2 separate regions of the Homo sapiens genome follow, and region 2 is linked to region 1. The links come from fine-mapping of genetic effects on gene expression. A gene starts in region 1. The other region holds a variant in brackets. All regions are shown on one strand. Distances are from middle to middle.

What was found.
Region 2: its variant is fine-mapped to the expression of TIMM13 in whole blood (INTERVAL, PIP 0.91).

Annotation. Positions count from the first base shown.
Region 1 is chr19:2,425,937-2,428,833 of GRCh38, reverse strand. TIMM13 (translocase of inner mitochondrial membrane 13) reads left to right here and starts at 1,248. Exons shown (of 3, transcript NM_012458.4): 1 at 1,248-1,420; 2 at 1,510-1,578; 3 at 1,788-2,897. The coding sequence starts at 1,301. The coding sequence ends at 1,886. TMPRSS9 (transmembrane serine protease 9) reads right to left here. Exons shown (of 19, transcript NM_001395513.1): 19 at 2,573-2,897. The coding sequence ends at 2,746. LMNB2 (lamin B2) reads left to right here. Exons shown (of 12, transcript NM_032737.4): 12 at 1-668. RefSeq lists enhancers at 778-927, 1,012-1,757, 1,758-2,501 and a silencer at 1,478-1,567.
Region 2 is chr19:2,386,574-2,389,470 of GRCh38, reverse strand. The region is part of intron 1 of TMPRSS9 (transmembrane serine protease 9); the gene reads right to left. Among named protein-coding and RNA genes, the nearest start is that of TMPRSS9, 28 kb to the right of the region's middle. The variant T/G (reference allele first, on the strand shown) is at 1,390.

The DNA.
Region 1 (2,897 bases):
TGGAGGTTCATTGAGAATTGAGTCTTTGGAAACACTAAGAAAATCAAATTTTTAAAAGTTATTTATGGCCTGGGAAACAATTTGCATTTGTCCCCAAATACGCTTAGCTGTGTGCCGCTTAGAACGATGCGAAACCATCCCTCTGTGTAAGCCCGTGCCGTGTGACTCGAAGCCTAGCGCCCTCCCTGCGAAGCATCAGACGCCACCCAGCCCTGGGGGGAGGCCCACGCCTGCTGGACCAACGCGGGTTCTGGGGTGCACAGCGCCAGGTTAACGCTGAAGCCTGCCCCGCTGAGCCCAGGAGCCGGGAGGCCTGCGGGCTGACCCAGAATCCGATCATGCACCTGTCCTCATGCCAGCGGCTTTGGCTGGGGTTGGTCTGAAGCCTGCACGCGGCAGTTCTTTGTTAAAGATCTGAGGGACTCCTCAGTCCTGGGGCGTCGCCGCCTGCAGCCTCTTCCAAGCCCTGCGTCCAGCGAGCGTCACAGCACAACCTGCAAAAACGGAGCTGGGCTGCAGCTGGGGCTGGCATGGACTTTCATTTCAGAGATTCGGTTTTTAAGAAGATGCATGCCTAATGTGTTCTTTTTTTTTTCCAATGATTTGTAATATACATTTTATGACTGGAAACTTTTTTGTACAACACTCCAATAAACATTTTGATTTTAGGTTCTGCCTCTGAGTTTATTCCTGAGGGGAAGCTCGAGCCGGGGCCTCTGCCCTAATGAAGCGGATGTCTAAGAAAGATCCCTCCACCCCCAAGGAAAAAGGTCACTGGCTAGTGTAGCTAGTGTAAACAGGACCCAGGCGATGCATGGGACCCTGCCCTTTTTTTTCTAGTGAGCCTCCGACGCTGTTGCACAAGCTGACTCTTCGTCACGTGATGCGACCGGGCTCCGCCCCGGCGGCAACACGCTGTATAGACGCGCCGGGTGCCTCGTGCGCATGCGCGGCAGGCCCTTCGGGACGAGCTGGAGGCAGAGCGTGAGTACAAAGTGATCGGCCTCGGCCGCACGTAGTAGCCCCCCTACTCCCCGGCCAAGTCAGGGCCTCCCTCTTCCCGCGGAGTCGCAACCACGGGTAGCTCGTGTAGGTAACGGCAGGTCCAGGCCTCCGCATGAGCGGAGGGCCCCCCGCGCGACCTTGAATGGCCCGGGCGCGCGCGGTCGTGTGGGAGTTGTAGTCCTCCGTCCCCGTCCGCGCGGACTCCGTTTCCCGTGGTGCCCCGGGCGGCCCGCTTCCGGCGCAGTTAGTTACGAGTCGGCGCACGCGGCCTCGGTCCGGTTGACTTTGCGGAGCCATGGAGGGCGGCTTCGGCTCCGATTTCGGGGGCTCCGGCAGCGGGAAGCTGGACCCAGGGCTCATAATGGAGCAGGTGAAAGTGCAGATCGCCGTGGCCAACGCGCAGGAGCTGCTGCAGGTGCGGGGCTGGCCGGGGACGGGCGCTGGGGGCGACAGGGCCACCCCTGGGGGCCGACGTCGCGGCTAAAGCCTCGCGTGTCTCCACAGAGGATGACGGACAAGTGTTTCCGGAAGTGTATAGGGAAACCTGGGGGCTCCCTGGACAACTCCGAGCAGGTGAGACCCGCGGAGGTTCGGGGCAAGGGTCGCGAGGGCCTAGATTCGAGGGGGGAGGTGTCTGCGCGTGCGCAGACTAACGGGGAGGTGCGACGGAGTGGTCACTGCACGTGCGTAGTCTGCAGCCCGGGCGTCCTGGAGCCGGGGTCAGGGCGGTCCCCGGGGCCGCGAAGTCCCGAGCTGAGCCGTGCGCCCCTCCGCTCCCGCAGAAGTGCATCGCCATGTGCATGGACCGCTACATGGACGCCTGGAACACCGTGTCTCGCGCCTACAACTCGCGGCTGCAGCGGGAACGAGCCAACATGTGACCGGCGAGCGCGGGCCACCCCACCCTGTTCATTTCCATAAACGTGCTTTGAGAGGCGGGGTCCGCATGTACGTACTGCCTGCCCGGGGCTTAGGAGGGTGGCACCGGTGCTGGGACACACGGGACTGTGTCCTCGCCACCCCCCGCCCTGCCCCCTGCCAGCCAGTGCAGCTTGGATCTCGGGGGTGTGGGGCCCTGTGCCTTCCTGAAGTGCTGGCAGCCCAGTGGCACCTCCTTCAGGCCTTTGGGGTATTCCCCTAGTGTGCCCAAGTCAGCCTCATATTCTGGGCGGACAGCTTGTCTGGACTTCGGAGTTGGGGGTGGTCAGACACCACAGGAGCTGTCACCTCCTGCGGATGGGCAAATAAATTGGTGGAGGACGGAGAGAAACCTCTTTATTTCCCTCCTGAGGGGTCTCTGGGAAGAGGTGACGCGTGTCCCTGGAACCCCAGCTCGGAGGGTCTCAGCCTCCCCTGGGTTGGGAGAAGTCCATCTTTCCCCTTAGTGCCACCGGGCTGCTGAGTCACGAGGAATGTGTTGCTGCTGCCACCCCTGCCCCAAAGGCTAAGGGGGACAGCCTTCCCCTTGTCAGGGCTTGCTTTGACCCTGCTTCGTTCCACCCCGGGTCCTGGTGGAGCACCAGGCAGGTGGTCCTCGCTGTGACACTGAGGTGCTGAGCCAGTGAGCTAGGGTGGAGGGGCTGTGTTTATTGGAACAAAGGGTGGTACCAAAATGCATCCCCATGACCCACAGCCCCCCCACACCCGTCCTTGGGTAGGGTACGGTGGGGTGGGGTGTTGGGTGGCCTGCTGCTCCTGTTGCTTTCACGTAGAGTCTCGGCCTGGGCAGTCACGTGGTGGTCACTCCTGGATGTGCTGTCCTATCCAGCCTCTCACAGCTGCCACCCGGGTATAGACACCTGGGAAGTGGGGCCGGCCACAGCCATAGCCCCAGCTAGTGACCCCAGTTAGCACCCACCGTCCAGAGGGCTCCCTGCAGGCCAGGGGTCCCC
Region 2 (2,897 bases), 39 kb after region 1:
TTGAACCCGGGAGGCGGAGGCTGCAGTGAACCGAGATCACGCTACTGCACTCCAGCCCGGGTGACAGAGCGAGACTCCAAAAAAAAAAAAAAAAAAGACCAGATGCGGTGGCTTATGCCTGTAATCCCAGCACTTTGGGAGGCCAAGGTGGGTGAATCACTTGAGGTCAAGAGTTTGAGACCAGCCTGGCCAACATGGTGAAACCCCATCTCTACTAAAAATACAAAAAATTAGTCAGGCGTGGTGGTGGGCGCCTGTAATCCCAGCTACTCGGGAGGCTGAGGCAGGAGAATCGCTTGAACCCGGGAGGCGGAGGTTGCAGGGAGCTGAGATCACGCCACTGCACTCCAGCCTGGCGACAGAGCAAGACGCCATCTCAAAAAAAAAAAAAAAAGGTGGAACGTGACTGCTGGCTGGGCGGCTGTGTGAGGATGAGGACTCCCGTGGGTCGCTGCGGTCCATTGCTAGAAAGAGTAAGTCTGAAGTTCCCACAGCTGCTGTAACAAAGGACCCCACGCTTGGGGGCTTAGAGGGACACCGAGTTTTCGGCCAGGCGTGGTGGCTCACACCTGTAATCCCAGCATTGTGGGAGGCTGAGGTGAGAGGATTGCTCGAGCCCAGGAGTTTGAGACCAGCCTGGGCAATATAGTGAGACCCCCATCTCCACAAAAAATGAACAAAAATTAGCCAGATGTGGTGGCTCATGCCTGTAATCCTAGCCACTCAGGAGGCTGAGGCAGGAGGATCACTTGAGCCCAGGAGGTGGAAGCTGCAGTGAGCTGTGATTGTGCCACTGTACTCCAGCCTGGGTGACAGAGCCAGACCCTGTCTCAAAGAATTTAAAAATGGAATACTGATTGATTATCTCACAGTTCTGAAAGTCAGAAGTCTGAGATCCATCTTGCAGGGCTCACCATCGAGCTGTGGGCAGGCCTGGGCCCTTCTGGGGGCTCCAGGGGAGAATACGTTTCCCATCTTTACCAGCGTCTTAAGCCTCAGGGCCCCTTCTTCTCCCTTCACAGCCACAGTGCAGCCTCTTCCAGTCTCTCTTTCTCACCCTCCCGCCTCCTTTTTTGTTTGTTTTTGAGACAGGGTCTTTCTCTGTTGCCCAGGCTGGAGTGCAATGGTGTGATCACAGCTCACTGCAGCCTCCACCTCCTGGGCTCAAGCGATCCTCCCACCTCCGCCTCCTAGTAGCTAGGGCCACGTGTGTGCCACTATGCCCAGCTAATTAAGTTTTTTGTAGAGAGGGAGTCTTCCTATGCTGCCCAAGCTGGTCTCAAACTCCTGACCTCACGCGATCCTCCCACCTGGGCCTCCCAAAGTGCTGGGATTACCGGCGTGAGCCACCGCGCCCAGCCTGAGTGCCAGCTTTCGAAGGGAGGTGCA[T/G]CAAAGAATTTGTGACCACAGACTCTTTTTCTGTCACACTCATCAACAACTCCTGTTGGCTAGTGTTCAAAAGAGATTCCTAATCCAGTCATTCCTCACCATCTGTGCAGCTACGGCTCTGGACAGCCCACCAGCATCCCGTCTGGAGGGACTGGCCTCTTTCCTCCCTCCCCTGCCCCTCTGTGAGCTGGTCACAGCCGTTAAGGGTGCCTTTGAAGTGTCCATCAGATTACATCATCCCTGCGACACACACACTAAAATCCCTCCAGCAGCCTAAAACCCAAAGTGCTCCTGACCTTCACACCCCACCCCTGATTTTTATTTTTTCTTTTTTAAAGAGAGAGAGAGTCTCTCTGTTGCCCATACTGGAGTGCTGTGGTGCGATCTCGGCTCACTGCAACTTCAAATTTCCGGGCTTAAGTGATCCTCCCACCTCAGCCTCCCATAGCTGGGACCACAGGTGTACGTCACCACGCCATGCTCATTTTCCTTTCTCCCTTCCCTTCCCTTTCTCCCTTCCTCCCTTCCTTTCCCTTCCCTTCCTTTCCCTTCCCTTCCTTTCCTTTCCTTTCCTTTCTTTTCTATTGAGATGGAGTCTTACTCTTGTTGACCTGGCTGGAGTGCAGTGGCACAGTCTCTGCTCACTGCAACCTCTGCCTCCCAGGTTCAAGCGATTCTCCTTCCTCAGCCTCCCCAATAGCTGGGATTACAGGCGCCCAGCACCACACCTGGCTAATTTTTATATTTTTAGTAGAGAGGGGGTTTTGCCATGTTGGCCAGGCTGGTCTCGAACTCCTGACCTCAGTTGATCCACCCACCTCGGCCTCCCAAAGTGCTGGGATTACAGGCATGAGCCACCTCACCCAGCCTCACTTTTCTATTTTTTTGTAGAGAGGGGAATCTTGTTATGTTGCCCAGGCTGGTTTTGAACTCCTGACCTCAGGTGATCCACCCGCCTTGGCCTCCCAAAGTGCTGGGATTACAGGCGTGAGCCACTGCACCCGGCCTCATTTTTCTGTTTTTTGTGGAGAGGGGATCTTGCTACATTGCCCAGGCTGGTTTTGAACTCCTGGCCTCAGGCAACCTTCCCTCCTCAGCCTCCCAAAGTGCTGGGACCACAGGTGCACTGTGCAGTGGCGTGATCTCACTACAAGCTCCGCCTCTCAGGTTCAAGTGATTCTCATGCCTCAGTCTCCCAAGTAGCTGGGACCACAGGCGTGTGCCATCACACCTGGCTAATTTTTGTATTTCTAGTAGAGATGGGGTTTCACCATATTGGCCAGGCTGTTCTCAAACTCCTGGCCTCAAGTGACCCACCTGCCTTGGCCTCCCAAAGTGCTGGGATGACAGGTGTGAGCCACTGTGCTGGCAGCAGTAAATATTTTCATGCTCACAAGGCAGTCAGGACTGTGTCCCTTCACTCTCCCATTGTCACGCTAAAGCAGCCGACCACGTGTAAAGAATTAGACACAACTATGTTCTCGTCACACTTTATGGACACTAAAATT